3 linked regions of the Homo sapiens genome follow. The protein of the gene in region 1 purifies or fractionates together with the protein of each later gene. This does not show direct contact. Each region holds a gene or a part of one and is shown in the gene's direction. Other genes may lie near its edges.

Evidence for each region. The genes of interacting proteins can lie anywhere in the genome.
Region 2: the proteins of GPSM1 (region 1) and NUMA1 purify together in Homo sapiens (affinity purification with mass spectrometry; 3 studies listed by BioGRID and IntAct, with this or other methods). This does not show direct contact.
Region 3: the proteins of GPSM1 (region 1) and PPP6R3 purify together in Homo sapiens (affinity purification with mass spectrometry; 3 studies listed by BioGRID and IntAct, with this or other methods). This does not show direct contact.

What each region holds. Positions count from the first base shown.
Region 1 is NC_000009.12:136,337,538-136,344,568, forward strand, and holds part of GPSM1 (G-protein-signaling modulator 1), read left to right. Parts: coding exon 1-27; intron 28-308; coding exon 309-424; intron 425-1,017; coding exon 1,018-1,173; intron 1,174-2,169; coding exon 2,170-2,278; intron 2,279-3,332; coding exon 3,333-3,456; coding exon of another isoform or gene 3,457-3,623; exon of another isoform or gene 3,624-4,301; intron 4,302-7,031. UniProt on the Homo sapiens protein: Guanine nucleotide dissociation inhibitor (GDI) which functions as a receptor-independent activator of heterotrimeric G-protein signaling.
Region 2 is NC_000011.10:72,077,534-72,084,437, reverse strand, and holds the start of NUMA1 (nuclear mitotic apparatus protein 1), read left to right. Parts: upstream 1-3,895; 5' UTR 3,896-3,980; exon of another isoform or gene 3,981-4,118; intron 4,119-6,904. UniProt on the Homo sapiens protein: Microtubule (MT)-binding protein that plays a role in the formation and maintenance of the spindle poles and the alignement and the segregation of chromosomes during mitotic cell division.
Region 3 is NC_000011.10:68,610,730-68,615,843, forward strand, and holds the end of PPP6R3 (serine/threonine-protein phosphatase 6 regulatory subunit 3), read left to right. Parts: intron 1-2,306; coding exon of another isoform or gene 2,307-2,336; coding exon 2,337-2,388; 3' UTR 2,389-3,902; coding exon of another isoform or gene 3,903-3,948; 3' UTR 3,949-4,605; downstream 4,606-5,114.

The sequences.
Region 1 (7,031 bases):
ACAGAGGCCACGACCTTCCACAAGGAGGTGAGCCGGGCAGGGTGACAGGGTGGAGGGGCCGGGCTGCTGCAGGGGCAGGGCTGAGCCACCCTCTTGGCGGTCCCTGAAAGGGCAGGGTGGTATGGCCAGGCAGCAGGCCCGCCCCACCGAGTCCTGGCCTCATCTGCACTTGGTCCTGCAGCTGCTAGCTGCTCACCCGGACACACAGATCTCTGGCCGGCCACCTGGGCAGGGAGGCAGCCCCTGTCCGCCCACGTCAGGCCCCGGGGCTGCGCCATGACCACCTGGCCTCCGGTGTGTCTCCGCAGCGCCTGGCCATTGCTAAGGAGTTTGGAGACAAGGCAGCCGAGAGGAGGGCCTACAGCAACCTGGGGAACGCCCACGTCTTCCTGGGGCGCTTTGACGTGGCCGCCGAGTACTACAAGTAGGTGGTCCCCACAATCTCCCAGGGAGACAGCAGGCCGGGGGGGCTGGATGCCAGGCCAAGGAAGTGCCCGCCCCAAGCTGGGAATCTGACTGCCTCCCCTCCCCTCCCCAGAAGGCAAGGTGGGGTTCTAGGCTGCCCCGGGAAGGGCAGACGGACAAAGCTCATGGGGAGGCAGGCGGTGGGGGAGCCGGCCTATGGGAGGTCTGGGCCATCTGCCTCCTGGCCTGAGCCACAGAGCAGCGCCTGCCGGGTGGAGCCCGGCTGTCAGCACGGGGTCCTGTGCCCAGCCCTAAACTTAACCCCATCTCAGCCTGAGCAGTGGGCACAGCAGTCTCAGGTCCTCCGGGGAGGAGTGGTGGCGGCTCAGGGTGGTCAGGCAACTTGCCAGAGCCTGGCAGGACCCCCCGTCCCCCTGGGGCCAACAGTCCCGCTCTGTGGCCATGTGAGGGTGGGGATGAAGCTGGACCCCAGAGAGGCCCCAGTGGGATTCCGGGGCAGGGGACCATCGGGCAGACTGCGTCCCCATTCTTACCTTCCACCCCTCACCCTGGAGCCCTCCTCCTGGGGGCTGACCCTGCCACTCTGCACAGGAAGACGCTGCAACTGTCTCGGCAGCTCAGGGACCAGGCAGTGGAGGCGCAGGCCTGCTACAGTCTGGGCAACACCTACACGCTGCTGCAGGACTACGAGCGCGCGGCCGAGTACCACCTGCGGCACCTGCTCATTGCCCAGGAGCTGGCCGACAGGTGCGTGGGCGCGGACGCGGCGGGCAGACCCGGCCCGGCCCACAGGCTGAATTACCGCGGCCCAGGCGAGGTGGCCTGGGTCCCATCCCCTGCTCTGCCACTGACCATGCTGTGACCCAGGAGTGGCAACGCCACTGTGGGGACTGAGCCAGACAGTGTGGACATTGGGCCGGCCACTGACCCCTGGCACAAGCGGGTGGGGTCCCCCTCCCATCCCTCAATTCGCCACCCTGTTGCCCCCACCACCCATGTATGTATGTAAATATCACTCTCTGGAGAGAGACAGGCTGGCAAACCACAGGCCCCTAAGTACTGTCTTGTGTGCAGGTCTGGGGTGGGTGGTGGCCGGAACAAGGGGCTCAGAGCCACAGGCCTGTGGCCTTTCACAGGCAGCAGAGAGGAGAGGTCTTTTGAAAGGCTGCCCTGCCTGGAGGCTTAAAAGTGGCCCAAGGTTTTCCTTTGTGGCGTGGTGAGGAGAATGTTCTGGAATAGACAGAGGTGCCGGTTGCACAGCATGAATGTACAAAATGCCAGTGGATCGTCCACGTGAAAATGATCAAATTCCTGTTAGACGCATTTCCCTCCAATATAAAAACAACCCCCTCACCCAGTGACTTGGAGGGTGCCCGTAAGGGTGGAGGGAGTGCAAGGGAGGAGGCTTGCCGGCCGCCAGGGGGCGAGCGAGGCCAAGGGCCCAGAAACTGCCCGCAAAGGCAGAGCCGGCCACAGGCCAGGTTGCTTGGACTCTGCGCTAATCCTTTTAATGGGAAGAAAAAAGGCAGAGCTGATTGGGGCTTATGCTTGAAGGTGGCAGAATTTGTGGGAGGTCCAGCTGGGGGCATTATCCTGTCATCCGGCCAATGCCCCTTGGGCCTGGGGGCCCCTGATGACCCTCGAAGCCAGGGTCATGCTGGGGCCGTGACCACCAGGGGAGGGGCTGGGGCTGGGGGCTGGCCTGGAGAGGGCGGGTATGAATCTGGTCTCCCTCTCTGGCAGAGTGGGCGAGGGCCGGGCGTGCTGGAGCCTGGGAAATGCCTACGTGTCCATGGGGCGCCCAGCGCAGGCCCTGACCTTCGCCAAGAAGCACCTGCAGATCTCCCAGGAGGTGAGCCAGGCCTGCCCCCAGAAGTCCCGGGCACTGCCCAGCCCACTCCAGACGGGCCGGGTCCCCTCTGCCCCGAGCGAGCGTGTGCGTGCCTGGGCCCCCCTCATCCTTTCAGGGCCATTGCAGCTGCCTGGTCCTTCCGAGGCCTGGTGATGACATGTCTACCATGCCCGGGGGTTTTTCCTGCAGCCCCCAGCTGGTGCCTTCCTGGGCAGCTGCGTCTCCTCCTCCTTGGAGAGTTTGCACAGGGTCTCTGTGGGCTCCGCCCATCAGCGCCCTCCTACTGTGGTCAGGGCGGAACATCACAGATGAACTGTGGGCCTCCCGGCTCCCGGCCTGTCCTTACATCACCCACTCCCACGCCACCTCCCTCTGCACACCCCGAGCCTGTTCATGCTAAAGACGGTGCCAGCCCCTACTGACCACCATAGACCCATGTAGGAGGTGGCCGGGTGGGGAGGCCTGCAGGTGCCCAGGTGAGGGTGGAGAGGGGCGGGCATGGGAAGGTCAGCAGAGCCCTCGTCTGAAGAGCTTCACTGGCAGCCAGCAGGCAGCCCCCGTGTCCCTCTGAGTGCAGGCTACAGCCTCCAGGGCCTTCCAGGGCTCCATGTGGCCCTCCCCCCAACCCCATGCCACCTCTCTTCTGCTTGACTTAAGCAAACAGTTAGTTCCTGAGTGATGTGGATGTTCCCGGGAGGGTCCCCCACAGAGCCTCGGCGCACAAGGCAGGGGCTGAGAGAGGTGCAGCCGGGCGGGGCCGGGCCCCTCGCGCACCGGAGGGCACAGGCCCAACCGCCTGGGACCCCAAGCATCTCTGGGGTGAACTAGGGGCTGTTGAGGACCTGTGGGGCCACCTCACCCAGGGACAGACCCCCAGACTCCACCTCCGGGTCCACAGTGAGTCCTGGTTCCCTCAGAGGCCCAGGGGTCAGTGACCAGTTCAGGTCACTCAGAAGGTCAGGGACGGGTGTACTGGGGGCCATTAAGGTCCCCTTGGAGCCCACAGCAGGGCCCCCAGCCACACCTGCCCGCTCCGCCACCCCACTCGCCGCAGATCGGGGACCGCCATGGGGAGCTCACGGCCCGCATGAACGTGGCGCAGCTGCAGCTGGTGCTCGGCCGCCTGACCAGCCCGGCAGCCTCAGAGAAGCCTGACCTGGCCGGCTATGAGGCCCAGGGTGAGTTCCAGGGTTGTGGGGGGGTCTTGCTCCCCACAGGCACGGACCGCATCAGGAGCTGCGGAGGGGTGGGATCGAGGCCAGGCCAGCATGGCGGAGGTGGCAGCCGCCAGAAAATGGCGCCTACAAGCCAGTTCTTCTTGGCCTCAGGGACAGCACAGGCCTGAGGTTCACCCTGAGCCCTTCCCACCCGCATCCTGAGTGGCGCTGCAGGGCTGCTGGATGAAGGACAGGAGGTGGTCGCCTGTTGCCCCACTGGCTGCTCCAGGGCCTCCACCCCCACCTCCCCCTGGAGCCCTCGGTGCAGGGAGGGCTTCTGTCCTCAGACCCAAGTAGGAGAGGGCTGCTGGGAGGCGAGAGGGCATCAGCCAGAGGGCTGGGCTGGGCTGGGCTGGGCTGGGCTGTGGGAGCCCTATGTGCCTGGGGCAGTAATCAGGCAAGGCCCAAGGCCATGCGAGGCCACCGTGGTGACCTCATTCATGGACCGCTGGTCGTCCCATGCCGGTCAGCAGTGCTGCAGACACAGGACAGAACGTCCCCTGCAAAGCGAAAAGACTAATAGGTGCCAGGGGGGTGGTGCCAGGTTGGGCCGACTTCCTGAGGTGGCTGGCAGGTGGGTGAGGGGCAGGCTTGGGGGGAGCAGCTGCCCCACCCATGTGTCCCCCACTCCCAAAGGTCTTGAGTTTGCCAGCCCCCGAGAAGGGATGCCTGCCTCCCAGAACGTACCTGGTGCCCCCCAGGCCTGCTAAGGACCAGGCTGGGAACACCAGGCTTGGATGTGGTGCTGGGCTGCCGGAGTTTCTTTTTCTTATCTTATTTTTAATAATTAAATGTTTTTATAGAGATAGGGCCTCACTATGTTGCCCAGGCCAGTGTCAAACTCCCAGCCTCAAGCGATCCTCCCATCTCGGCTTCCAGAAGTGCTGGGATTATAGGCGTGAGCCACCGTGCCCAGCCATCCCCTGGGTTTTTGTGCCACAGTGCTCATGGGTTTCTGACGATGACCTCTCCTGGGAAATTGGGGGTGCATGTCAGCCACCGCAGAGGCTGAAGACAGAGGAAGGAGCAGAGGCTCTGGGGCCCTCAGCGAGTCCGTGGGACAAGGTGCTGTGACCGATGGCAGTGGGTGGGTAGGGGATGGGCTGGAATGTGCCCCCCAGGATGTCCAGGCCTATTTCTACCCATGGCCGGGGTTTCCTAAGGGTGGGGAGCTCTGCCGAGAGCTCCTGCGGCACCCCTAGTACCCTCCTGTGTCCCTGGCTCGGCACTGCCACCATCTGGGACCCCAGCAGCAACTGGCAGCAGGGCTGGGAGCAGCTCTGGAAAGGCTCCGCGGAGGCTGCGGCTCTGGGTCCTCCCGACGTTTTCTTTCTTGGAGCCAAGGAAAAGGGGGGCCGGAGTGGGAGGACGCTGGAACAATGCAGCTTCTGTCCCTCTCTGGCTCCTCTGTGCCGCCCCGAGTGCGGGACCCCTTCCAGCCGGCCGGACGCCTCCTCCCCCAGGGCTGGGGAAGGGTCCTCCTCCCCGCCCAGGGCAGCCCGGCAGCCTGGCTGGGGCCGCCGCCCGGCTGCCGCTGTGGGAGGCAGGCTGCACACCTAGAGCCTGGGCGGCCCTGGGTGAGACCCCGGCTCAGCTGAGCCTGGCAGGGACAGGGCCTTGAGGCCGGGAGTCTGGACCCGGCGTTGCGGGTTGGGGGCGCCACGGAAGGACCCACGCAGCCTCCCCATTCGGCAGGTGCGGAGGGCGGGGTGGATCTGCGAGCTGCGGGAGGGGAGGGGGGTGCAGAGCCGCGCTAGAGCCTGGCCGTGCGGAGGGGGCGCCAGGGCTGGGGGCACAGGAGGGCGCTGCCCAGCGGGGTGTGGGCAGGGAGGAGGAAGTCGTCTGGAGGTGGGGCTTCAGCCCGGCGGGGACGCGGTGGGGCGTGGCCTTGCTGTTGTGGGCGTGGTCCATGGGGGCGGTGGGCGTGGCAGAGGCTGGTGGGTTTGGTGTCCCGTTGATAAACACAAGGAGACTTACGTGCGGCTGGAGGACAAAGAGCCTTGGCGCGGCTCAGTCAGCGTATTAATCTCACCGCCCTCTGCTGGCCCCTCCCCAGCCAGCAGAGAAGCCCCAGAAGTGTGTCTGGGGGTCACCACCCTGCCAGCCACTGCCCTTGTCCAGCTCCTCTGGGTGTGTGGCCTCTATGAGACCCTGACAGCAACCAGCCCCCACCTCCCTGGCCAGAGGGCACAGGCCCGGGCCTCCCACACTTGCTCCTGGGCTGCCCACCCCCCACCCCAGCAAGGGTGCCAGGCAGGACGGAGGCTCTGCTGCCACTCTTGGTGCGGGCAGCATGATTGGCATGTTGGGAGGAGGGAGCCGGCCCTGAGCCCTGCAGGACCGCCCCCTGCCCTTGGCCTGTCCCCGATGGCCCTGCCTGTCCCACAGGATGTGCGACTGCCCTCGGCCCTGCTGACCGTACTTCTCAGCCCTCCACCGTCTGGGCCCTGCTCAGGGCGTTGTGAGCACGGTACACAAGAGTTACTGGGGGAGCATGCCACCAGCCTTCCTGGGAGAAGTCCCCTGAACGTCCCAACGAGTGGCCTTGGGGTCAGGGATGTGCATGGCATAACCTCCCCTGCAGTTTAGGCTGTGGGCTCCAGCCCTGGCCAGCTGATCAAGTGACTTGACCCACTTGTGCCTCAGTGTCCCCATCTGGGGAACGGGCCCATCAGTAGTGCTGGGAACAGAGCTTGGCAGGGGTGAGAGGCCAGCGAGCCTGAGGGCCCGTAAGCCTGTTGCGTTCGGGCCCTGGGTGGACGAGGCAGGTGTGGCTGCAGCACCATCCGCCTGTTCCAGCAGCCCAGTGGCCCTTGGGCAGCCGCCGGGATGGAGGATGCACCCTCTGTCCGTGCGCCTAAGAGGGCCCAGAGGGGACAGTGTGTGGGAAATGGCACACAGGGTCCCGCACGCAGCAGATACACAGTAAATGCCTGCTGCTTGGTCACCAGGCTCCTGCCGTGTGCCAGGCACTGCTGGGGCCCTCACTGGCACCAAGACCGCTGAGCCGCGTCCAGCAGCTGATAGGTGAGGAACGGGGAGCCCAGGAGTGAGCCACATGGGATGAGCTTTGGGAGAAAGAAAAGCCCAACAGGGAGGTGCGGACAGGAACGGGGGAGGTGCGGACAGGATCGGGGGGAGGCGCGGACAGGAGCGGGGGGAGGCGCGGACAGGAGCGGGGTGGGGGCGCGGACAGAAGCGGGGTGGGGCGCAGACAGGAGCAGGGGAGGCGCGGACAGGAACAGGGGAAGCAGGCTGCAGCACCTTTGGGAGATGACCATCATGGTCCATTCCGACTGCCCTCACAAAGCACCGCAGGCCGGGGCAGCAACAGCAGACGTTTACTCCTCACGGCTCTGGAGGCCAGAAGGCCAGGGTTTGGGTGCTGTGTGCTCGGGTGCTGGCGAGAGCCTCTTCCGGGCTGGCAGACGGCGCTTTCTTGTTGTGTCCTCACCTAGCAGAGACAGCGAGGAAGAAGGGGGAGCTTGAGAACACTGGTGGCTTCTCTTAAGGCCACTTGTCATTATGGGGCTCCA
Region 2 (6,904 bases), on another chromosome or scaffold:
GTACTTTAATGTTATTCACTTAATTTATTTAACCAATCCCAAGTTGACAGAAAACTGTTTTCAGTTTTGGGAAATTACTAACATTTGGAATTTGATTTGTTGCTAGCCTATTCCTGCCCTCTCTCAGGCAAGTTGCAACATGATAACACAGGAAGCTTTGAGGAATAATCACATAAATCTGATAGGAGATTCAACAGCCTGGCCCGAGAGTTTCTGATGATGGACTGATGGTGGAAAAAAAATCAAAGGCTGCTATGAAAAATCTGCCACATATTTAGCCAGGCATGGCAGCTCACGCCTATAGTCCCAGCTACTTGGGAAGCTGAGGTAGGAGTATGGCTCAAGCCCAGGAGTTCGAGGCTGCAGTGAGCTATGACTGTGCCACTGCACTCCAGTCTGGGCAACAGAGCGAGACCCTGTCAAAAGAAAAAGAAGAAAAATCTGCCACATAATCTAATATATTCTGGGAGGTTATATTCCCAGGTGCCAAAAGGAGGACCAAGATTCAACCTGGCTCCTGTCCACCCCCCTCTACTACCATCTCATCCTCAACTCCAATTCTGCAGTCTAGCCAAATGCAACCACTCACCATAAGTTCCCTGCACCTGCCACTGGGCCTCTAAGTGGAACAGTGTCTCCTTCCAGCTCTGTCTGCTTGGAATATAGTTTTTCTCTCCTCCTTTTGCTTTGCTAATTCTTATTTCAGGGCTCAGATCAGGTTTCAACTTTTCTGAGAAGTCTACCTTTATCCTCAAATCTGTAATTGTAGTGCTATGATTGCCATGGTAGCACTCGTAACACTGTAATTATCTGCTTACTATCTGTATGTCCATAAACACCAGCAGGGCAGAAACCATATTTTTTCTTACAGTTGTATCTCATAGTGCCGGCAAGTAGTAGGTGCTTAACAAACACATTAAAAATTGCAACTAAATAATACTACAAAGGAGAGGGCCATGAGGTTGCTGTAATTGAGGGATCTGACCTGGTCTGAACAGTCTACAGGAAGACATTCCTGAAGAAGTGACTGAGAGAAATCTAAAGGATAAGTACAAATTAACTTATGGGGTAGGGGGTGGTGTGGAATGAGCATTCCAGGCAGATGTGACTGCTATATGCAAAGGTTCTATGGTGGAAGGGTACTTGGAAATTTTGAAGACCTTAAAGGTTATATAACTGAAGGGGAGAGAAGGATGAATATGTATGGTTAGACTGGAGGCTGGAGAGATGGGAGCAATAGGAAACCACATAGTATTAATATTAAATGGGGGCTGGCTGGGCGTGGCGGCTCACGCCTGTAATCTCAGCACTTTGGGAGGCCAAGGTGGGCAGATCACCTGAGGTCGGGAGTTCGAGACCAGCCTGACCAACATGGAGAAACCCCGTCTCTACTAAAAATATAAAATTAGCCGGGTGTGGTGGCGCATGCCTGTAATCCCAGTTACCTGGGAGGCTGAGACAGGAGAATTGCTTGAAACCGGGAGGTGGAGGTTGCTGTGAGCCGAGATTGCGCCATTGCACTCCAGCCTGGGCAGCAAGAGCGAAACTCTGTCTCAAAAAGAAAAAAAAAAAATTGGGGGTGGGGTAGAGAGTGAACAGTATCAGCTTTGCATTTTGAAGGATCACTCTGGTTGCAGTGCGCAAATATGGCTGGGAGGGAAGGCAGGAAGGATGTGATGGTAGCTAGGACCTATATAAAAGATATTCAGGAAGTAAAGCTGATAAGACTTAGTGATAGATGGGAAATGGAAGAGGTATTAAGTAAATGGAAGAGGTACTAACTTGGGTTTTGGGCTTGGGTATATTGTGGATAAAGGTAGGAGCACTGGAAGAGATCCAGGCTTGGAGGAAAAGGTTGGGATACACAGAGATTGTTTCAATTTCAGAAATGTAGAGTTTGGGTTGCCTTTGAGGTATCCTAAAGGAGATGTTGAGGCAATTGGCTATATAGATCTGGAGCTTAGAGATGAGGGCTGGGCTTGAGATACACACTTGTGTACATTTGCATACAGGTGGAAAATGAAGTTGTGGGTGTGGAGGGGTACCCAAGAAGAGAATATAGAGTGCAGTGGCAAGAGGGCGTAGGACCAAACCTGGGAGAACTTTAAGGTAGTAAGTGGACCAGTCAGGGCCAGCTAGTCACCAGCTAGAAACCAGCTAATCATGGTCACTTCAGACATGGGTGCTGTGTTAGCCCTTCTGTTTCCTGTTTAGTTAAAAATGTTCAAGTCTCATTGTCTTAGTCTCTCTAGTTCCTTTTCCCCATTAAAAGTTTCAGGGGAGGATCTGAAATTCATTCCAGCTGAAGTGTAAATAATACAAAGTAGGCCACACAGGTTCCTTTTCCCTGGGGCAGTTTAACTTGTTCCTTGGAACAAGTCCTTCCGCTATAGAGGCAGTAGGCTGAAGCTAAAGAGACTTAGCTGGAAGTCGGAGAACTGGAGTCTAGTTCTAGCTCTGTCACTAATTTGGTGTGTGGCCTTGGGCAAGTCCCTTTTCTCTGGGTTTCAGTTTTCCAATCTGTGAAATGAAGATAAATATCCTTGACTCACAGAGCTGTTAAGAGTATCAAAAGAGAGACTGTGAAAGCACTGGGTAGGTTACTAAATGTAATAGATCTGTCGTGAGTACTAAAAAAAATGAAGCTCTAACTGTAGAGCTTTGAGTAGCGGACCACGGAGAAGGTGTGGGGAGAAAAGGGAATCTGGGGACAGATTGAGAAGGGGTTTTACTCCTTGGAAGAAGAAGGAATGAGGCACTTCACGCCCCAGGAAGTTTCCTACATCTCTAGAATTAGGGTAGCGACTGCGATTTACTCAATCTAATGCTAACCGCATGTCTTGGAAGAGGGTCTCAGTTCCTCAGAGGAAAACCAACCCCATTTCTGAGGGCGTTTCTGATCTCCCAGGTTATGCCTGGAACTTGAAGCATCCGATTTTGGGAGCTTTATGTTTGCGTTGGGGGCGGGGTTCGTTGTTTTGTTTTGTTTTTGTTTTGTTTCGTTTTGTTTTGTTTTGAGATGGAGGTATCGCTCTATAGCCCAGGCTGGAGTGTAGTTGCGTGATCACGGCTCACTGCAGCTTCAATCTCCGGGCTCAAGCGATCCTTCTACCTCAGCCTCCCTAGTAGCTGGGGCCACTGGAGCGCGCCACCAAGCCCGGCTAATTTTTTTATGTTTTTGGTAGAGACAGGGTTCGCCATGTTTCTCAGGCTGGTCTCGAACTCCTGGCCTTAAGTGGTCCGCCCGCCTTGGTCTCCCAGTGTTGGGATTACAGGCGTGAGCCACCGCTCCCGGCCCTGGGGGTGGTTCTTAAGCATCCCCAAATCTGTATGGATATATATCTCAACGCCTATCCCTCCCTCTGCTCCCCCTCGCCCAGTCTGTCCCATGTGAGTGTTGTATCTTGTTCGCTGTGAAAGGTGATGAGGGTCGGTGGGGGAAATCTCAGATCCCCGAGCAGGAAGGTTCTTAGTCGTTCTGTGAGTGCCCCTCCCTTCTCCATAGATCTCTTGTCCCCTAGAACGGGTTTCCTGTTTTCCCGCCCGACTCACCCGCAGTCGCTTCCTCTCCAGTCTTGGCGTCCCACTGCCTCAGGGTTACTCAGAGCAACTCCATGGCAACTGCTTTCGTCACCACAACCCGGCAGGCGCCATAAGTACTGACGCGATGCTTACCGGGACCTTCAGTTTGTCAGGGGCGGGGCTTCAAGGCCGCGGGTGACGCTGGGATTTGTAGTTCTCTTTGCCTTCAAGTACAGGCCGGGGTCCGGAAGCGGTGATACCCCTTCTCTTTCCCAGTGGCCCTCAAACTTCCTTTTCCCGGGTCCTTAAGCGGGCCCCGCCGACAGAGGCCAATCAGAGGGCAGCGCGAGGGGGCGGGGCCATAGTTTAAACTAATTGTGCGCTCACAGCGCTGGCGCGAGCCCACGAAGAGGTACGATTCCGGAGAATCGCGAGGCAGAGCGGGAGCGCGCAGCCAGGTAACCGGCGCGGGCCCGCGTTTGGCGTGCGGCCTGGGCACCCCTGCGGGTGCTCAGGCCTAAAAGGGGTGCTGGAGAGGCCGCTGCGAGCGGAAGGCCTCCTCCATAACCGAGTCCGAAAGGGCAGAATCTATGGGGGTAAGGTTTGTGAGGAGAGGCGCCTGAGAGGGAGGAGCCGGGGGGGGGGGGGGTGCCTTAAAGGGGAGGGTCTGTTTGGGGGCGTGTCTGTGGAATTAAATCTGAAGGTGACTGGGGTCGGGGGTATAGGGCAAGTTCCCGAAAGGCTTGTAAGCGAGGGGTCGGGTCCTGGAAAGTCTTTGCCTTTTATCGTTAACAATAGCAGTAGTTATGGTAGTGCAGTAGTCAGCATTTTCTGAGCTACACCGTCCACAATGACCTGCCAAATGTTTATCTTTTTAATCTTCTAACCACCTGTTATACTTTAAAGATGGGGAGCCTGAGGTTTATAATGTTTAGCTTGGCCCGGGTTACGTAGCCAGTGCGAGGTTGGCTCTACTTTGGGTTTATGGGTTGGGCATAAATGGGGACGGGGAAGGTGCTTTGTGGGGGCGCGCGTTGTCTTGGACTGGTCAGTGTATTTTGAGCCTCACTTTTCATATATGTAAACAATGACCTTACCTGCCTTACCTACTTCCTGGGGTGGTTGTCCTGGTCAAAACAGGTTAAGTCTTTTTTTTTTTTTTTTTTAATTTTTGTTTGTTTTTGTTTTTCATCCATGGACTCTCACAGATAACATGTTTCATACACGCACCTCGGAGAGTACAAATTTATGACTATAAGTGGTGTGACTGTGTGAAGATTGTGGGTGGGCGGGAGCCCACTGGGTTGATGCTGCCGCCTCTGGGTACTCTCTTTTGCTTACCTCTGAGTTAGCACTTGTCATTTTTTTTTTTTTTTGAGACGGAGTCTCGCCCTATCGCCCAGGCCGGAGTGCAGTGGCGCGATCTCGGCTCACTGCAACCTCTGCCACCCGGGTTCAAACAGTTCCCTGCCTCAGCCTCCCGAGTAGCTGGGATTACAGGCGCCCGCTACCACACCCGGCTAACTTTTGTATTTTTAGTAGACACAGGGTTTCACCATCTTGGCCAGGCCGGTCTTGAACTCTTGACCTCGTGATCCGCCCGCCTCGGCTTCCCAAAGTGCTTGGGATTACAGGCGTGAGCCATCACGCCCGGCCTGCCATCTGGTATTTTAAAAGTCTGCGTGTTTGTCTGCCCTTCTAGATAACGAGAGACTTTTTCGTCACTGTATCCTAATGGCTAGGCAGGATTTGCGACATGTAATGGGAATAAATGTATGCTTTGGAATAATTTCTTGGGCTGAAAGGGCACAGGAATTTCGCTTTCCCGTTTTCATTTAGTGGCATTTGAACCTCAGTATTAAGCTGTCCTCTTTACTGGAATGGCACTCCCTCTTGAAAACGTGATGATATTTTCTTGCTTTAATACATAATTCCCTCTCTCTAGTATCTGTTGCCTGGTTCTATGTTTCCAAACTTCTGGGTTGTCTGGTCGTTAAAGCTTTAATGGTAAGGGAGTTGGGCCTCTCTGCTTTGTGGAGATCTTTACTGCTGTGAATATATGGGAACCTGGGGCGAACATGAGGATCATGTAAGGTAGCTTTCTGTCAGCACAGATGGGTTTATGTTTCCTCAGTCCCTCTTTCTGTGTGGTATTTTCTTCTTTAGAGGAAGAACCACATACTTTTTTGTGAAAGCTTCCAAAGTATTCTTTTCGTAGCCTAAGTTCTAGCAAGGGATGACTAATTGTAATGTCTAAGCTCTTAGTTCACAGCGAAAAGCGGTACATTCCAAAAGCTTAAAGATCTTACCTGAAAGCTCGTTAAGAAACGTAGAATTCTTTTTTACATGTGGAACATGGAAGTGGGAAGAATGCCTTGAAATAAGACTTGAATTCTAGAACTTTTAGGATGAGGGCAAAGCCCTGCTCAGGTGGCTGAACAGAGCTGATCAGGGGCTGTTTGGACAGCTGTGTCTAATTGATAAAACTATGATCAGAAGATATTAGGTTTGTGCAAAAGTAATTGCAGTTATTGCCATTGAAAGTAATGGCAAAAACCACAGTTACTTTTGCATTAACCTAATATATGGTGTGGTCATTTAATTTAGCCTCTTACCCAGTGTACACTAAACATACCAAAAGGTGTTGTCCAGACTCAAAATGAGTACTTTCTAGAATGAGATCATTCCCAAAGTCAATCCATCTCTAAGCTGAACAATTCTAATTGATAATTATTATTTTGTAGCTGGGCATGGTGGCTTGCCCTGTCATCCCAACTACTCTGGAGGCTGAGGCAGGAGGAGCAGGCGGGAGAATGGCTTGAGCCCAGGAGTTCTTAGCTAGCCTGGGCAACAGAGTGAGACCCCAACACAATTAAAATATGTTTATTGTTTTGTATTGTTAGTGATTATTTCATTTTACCCATGTATGTCTACTGTTTGCTTTTTCACTATTTTTCCTTGCATTTTATTCCTTCCTTTTTTATTGCATAGATACATACATCCTTCAGATGTTTGTCCAGTGGGAATCTGTTAGTGGTAAACACTGTCTTCATTTAAAAAATCTTTATTTCACTTTCAGTTTTTTGTTTTTTTTTTTTTTTTGAGATGGAGTCTCACTCTGTTGCCCAGGCTGGAGTGCAGTGGCACAGTCTCGGCTCACTGCAAGCTCCGCCTCCCAGGTTCACACCATTCTCCTGCCTCAGCCTCCCGAGTAGCTGGGACTACAGGCGCCCGCAACCACGCCTGGCTAATTTTTTGTATTTTTAGTAGAGACAGGGTTTCATTGTGTTAGCCATGATGGTCTCGATCCCCTGACCTTGTGATCCTCCCGCCTCGGCCTCTCAGAGTGCTGGGATTATAGGCATGAGCCACTGTGCCCAGC
Region 3 (5,114 bases), on another chromosome or scaffold:
TGTTCAGCACTTCCCACAATCAACTTCTGTGAACAAATGTAGCTAAGATTGTATATTCCTTCCATAAGGAATAAAATGACCTTTAAAGCTATTTCAGAGAAGTTTTAACCCCCCACCCCCACCCCATCCTCCCCCAAATCTTGCCAGCATTGTATGAGAGCATAACCAGTGGGAACCAGCAGGGAGCACTCTTTGTTGGTCCAAAATCCTGTATTCACAGTGTAGCAAGCTGTTTGTGTTCCTCCTGTGGAAATTGTAGCCAAAATAAAGCCTTTGTTTTTGTGATTAGAAATATTTTTTTTGCATATAAAACAAACAAATTAAGAACTATTTGAGCATGTTGGCTCTAGTGAAGGCTTTTGGGGGAAGAGGCAGGGTGGCCCTCTAGCACTGGGAAGCTGCCTCAACTCTGCTTCTACGGATTGGGCAAGTCACTCTCTTTCTTGGGGTTTCAATGTATTTTTTAATGGTCCTTTATAGGTCTCATTCCCAATCAATTATTTCAGCTCTCTGATTTCTACCTATAAATTTCCTTTATATTGAGGGCTGCCTAGGCAGGATCGTCCAGGTCTATCCCAGTTTGGGGCAGTTGCTTCAGGGGAATATTCTTGGTTTCTCTGTCATAAGGATGCACAAGGCTCTGGAGTCATTTCCTTGGCTTTCTGAGCACAGAAGAATTGTTTGCATAAGGGGAAGCCACTTGCTCTCCTCTGTGGCTGGGAATGCCTGCTCTGAAGAGCCCTGCCCTAACCTGCCGGGCCAAGGGATGGAGGAAAAGATGGGGTCAGCCAGTGGAAGAAGAGGGGCATCACTTGGGTCCATGCCTTTATCCATCTGTCCTTCTTTCCTCTGACACACGTTTGTGTGTGGTGGCCACTGGTCTAGGCCGGGTCATAAAGCTGCAGCACACGGACACCCAGTGGTCTCGGGGCATACTAGAGGCACATTCATCAAGAAGCCACGAAGAAGGGACAGGGGTCCATGTGAGCTGGGGTGCGGGGGAGAGGATCTCTGAGGTGACGTTGGAGTGGGCATTAGGGCAGACCTAGAGTGCGTCCTAGATTGCACGTGTTCTAAAGTGACGTATGACAGCATGGGATATTGAAGCTCACCCGTCTTTCCTGTGTGGTTCCCGTCCCAGCCAGATACCACAGTTCCTTGGATTGGCAGGCGCGCTGTTTCCTGTCACACTTAAAGATCTGCATTGCCACATGATCTCACTTTTCACAGCTGTTTTATCAAGCATGTCCTTTGTGCTTCTGATGTGCTGAGCATGCTGCACACATTATGTACTTATTTCATATGTATACTAGTGAAGCCCTGTGGGGCGTGGGGAGGGTTCTTTTCCCATTTTACAGAGGAGAAAACAGAACTGAGAGGGGCTAAGAAATCTACTTATAAGATCACTCAGCTTGTTTAAGTGAAGGCAAGTTAGTTATATACCAGTTATGTCTAGTTCCAGAAGTCTCGATTCCTATGTCTCTCATACACGGAGCCACCATCAGATGTAAGTAAGTGAGCAGAGTGGATTGTGTGTGCAGAGCTGACTTTTTGGCTCACTGTATAACCAGCAGGTATAAGGCATGAGTAGCATTCTAGCTGTAAATTGTGAATGCTAGTGGAAAAGTGCTTGTGGGCATCCCAGTTACGGCCCTAAGCACCCTTTCCCAAGTCTGCTTGATACAATTTTGGTCAAGCCTTCCCGAATAGGTTATATATTCAGGTTGTAATTTTGGCAGGAAGGCAAAACCTGGACACTTTGTTATATACTGTCCCACCTGTTATTCCCTCCCAGTTTTGAGCCTAACATTTGCTTTGTGGGACATGTTCTTCAAGTGGACACCTTTTTTTTTTTTTCCAGTAGTTTATTTGCAAACCTCCTTTCCTTTCCTTTTTTCCCCCCTTTCCTAGTAGCAGAATCCTGTTTCCAAGTGAAATAGTATGTGGATTCCAATCTGTGGGTCACATAAAAGCTTTCTTGAAGGAGCGGTGAACACATAGCTCCTGAAGGCTCTGGAAGCCACAGTTTATACCCCACTGACCTAGTCACTCCCTGTGCTTCTTGGAGGCCGCGGTGGGGCGGTTCTCCCAGAGCATTTGCTCTGCTGCTGCCCTTGCTGAATGCCTGCTCACCCGGTGATGAAGCTTAGATGCACTCACTCAGATTTTTCTAGAGCTTTTGCTCCATTCATTTACATATCATTTTATTAAAAACTTACTAAGTTCAAAACAATGTTAAAATAAGTTGTCCCTGCCCTTGGGGAGCTCAGCTAAGTAGGTTTTGTTTTTCATATTTCTGCTGCAAGTGCCTCCGATGCCTGTCTGTTGCTCCTTAGGACTGGCCAACCAAGCGCACCAGGTGACACTTCAGTGAATGGCCCTGTATGACGGGTGACGTCTGCTGCTGCTGACTGAGGACTGCAGACCGCCACCACTCAGGGGCTCTGGAGGGGTCAGCTGGAGCCCACCAAGCTGTCACTGCTGCACTCACTCTGCAAGGGATCAGGACCAGCAACCTTTATATTCTAGATTCTAAGACATTGTACAGAGAAATTCAGAAGTGTAAAAATATTGCACATTGACAAATACCAAGAATTTTTGCGTATGTTTATATTGTATTGTTCTAAATAATGGGTAGCCTGTGAAATAAGATCTTGCCACCCATGTAATAATAGTAGTAATACTATAGTTAAAATGGCTGTAAGAATAGTTTTATAAAAGTGAATACACAGATCTATTGTATTTGAAACATAACTTTGACAATTATTAGTGTGACCAAAGTATTAGGCGGTTTTCATACATTTTTCACCTTGTACAAAATTATGAATTCATTTTTCCTCCAGGCCGACAAGGAGTTGTAGAATGAAAATGCCCTCTAAGTGTTATTTTGGTTGTTCTAACTTACAAAAGTGATTTTGAATAAGAAATATTTGGTGTTCTTTTTATAACCAGTTTTTGATTGGTAATTGTTTTCTGTATTGTTTAAAACGGATCAAAAATGTAAGTCTATTGGTAGAGATTAAGTAAAGTATTTATTGCTACATCATAGTTGATAAATTGATGTTATCGTAAAGCCATATGTTCTGTTCAAGTCTTGTTTGCTTGAAATGATTATTCCTACAAGTGAAACACTAGACTATTTGGAGTGTATATGGCTTGTGTTTTGGGATTTTTTTTTTTTTTTTTTGGCTTTTGTTTTTGTTTGTTTTTTTGTTTCATTTGGTAGTTCATCTGCCTTTTAACCCATTCACCAAAATTTACCTTGTTAACAAGCATCACCAATGAACATTTCAGAGCAATCTGCATATTTAACAGACCTAAAATAAATCCTATTAGGCAAGTCAGTTGAAAATGCTCGTGCTGCTAATGGAATTAGAGTGCGTTCATTTTACAGGCTAGTATTTTAAAAGTAGAAATCAAAATCTGGCACCGAAGCATGCTAATTGTTTACTGTACCTTGTGAGGTTTTCACTCATAAATTTAAACCAGTGTATTTTTTTAGAACTGGTTTGTGTATATATATAGTGATTATGGATACTAATTCAATGTAATTTATAATTTTCTATGTCAATACAAAAATACATCACAGCCTTCTCAAACAGCTCAAGCAATATATTGTATATTGCCATATCGTCTGGTGAAAGGGTTAAATTACTTCACCTCTTGCACTTTTAGATGCAAATCAGTTTTTCATTTCTGTAATAGAAAATTATTCACGTATTTTTACATCATTTGTTTTTCCTGACCAGTATTTAAAACCAAAAGGATATTCTGAAAAATGGCCAACAATTTTTTTAGAAGTAGCATCCCAAGCAGCGTGCCTAAACATTACATTGCATATGGAAATAAAAGAATCAAACGTCTAATGCCTTATTATTTCTGATTTCCTTTTTCATTTTAAGTGGTGTGGAGATTCCAGCACTCCCAGGACAGTGGAGTCAGCAGTAAGCCCTGGGACAGGTGGCAAGGGTGGGTCCCTTGACCTTTGCACGCCTCCTCAGGAACCCCCTTTCCCGGGTGAGCCCCTCTCTGAAGAGACTGTCCTTGGGCCTCCTCTGGAAGCAGCACCCCCAGAGGACAGGGCTCCTCCTGCTTGCCTCAGGGCTGCCTGACTTGAATGGCGTTGGACCTCGGGGATTACTGGTAGATAATATGCTCTGGTCTCGCCTGGTGGTGAGTTTTGCCAGCCATGGCCAGGGTTTGGCTCCACTGGTGGCACACGTGGCCTCCGTGGTATGGACCTGGTGGCTTCTCCATCCCACTGTGGCCTCTGTGGTATGGACCTGGTGGCTTCTCCATCCTACCCAAGGTAACAGTGTCTTGCTTCATCCCACTGACTGCTGGGAGAGAGCCTCTGGGACTTTTCTTTGGGGCATCATTTTGTTTTGTCTTTCGTAGCAGGGAAAGGATATGACAATGGGGAGGACAGTTCTTTTGGAGGTTGGAGGGGCCAAGCCAAGGACAGGAGCAAGTGTGCCCTCATTTTGTTTCTACTTTTAATTTCTGTGTGTTGGCCATACTGAATTATGAGACTAACAGATGTCTACAATACAATACCTGTATTCAAAATAACAAAAATAAAGCCTGATTCTTTGTTTCTAGAAATCTCTTGTACCTTGCTTGGATTTTTAATGGGTTGATGTGTCCTGCCATTAGGTCCCGTGTTACACTAGGTCCTGTGTGAGAAAGACTGCACTGCACTGTGTGAGAGAGTGGCCTCTGGGATCAGGGGCTCATCCTCCCCACTGCCATAGCCCAGGTGCCCAGAAGAGGTGGTGCCTGACACCGGCTCTCAGTCTTGGGACGGCTCCAAGGGTTCCTCTGGACCTCCAGCTTGTTACTTTTATGTGCAGCGTGTCCCACCTATGTTGTTTGGCTCCCAGCCCAACAAGTCACAGTTAGGTGCTCCATAATGATTCTTAAGATGTGATGCTTATGTAGCTCCTTATTTTGCATTTTCCCTTCACCTGTTTGCTTAAAAACATGTTCTCTAGTCATTACCTCCTAGCAGGTCCTCTGCACAGCCTTTTGCTTTCTGGGCACGCATGCATCCCTCCGTGCCTGGGCCCACAGGCATCTCACACAGCACTGAGTACACACCTCTGCATGCTGGG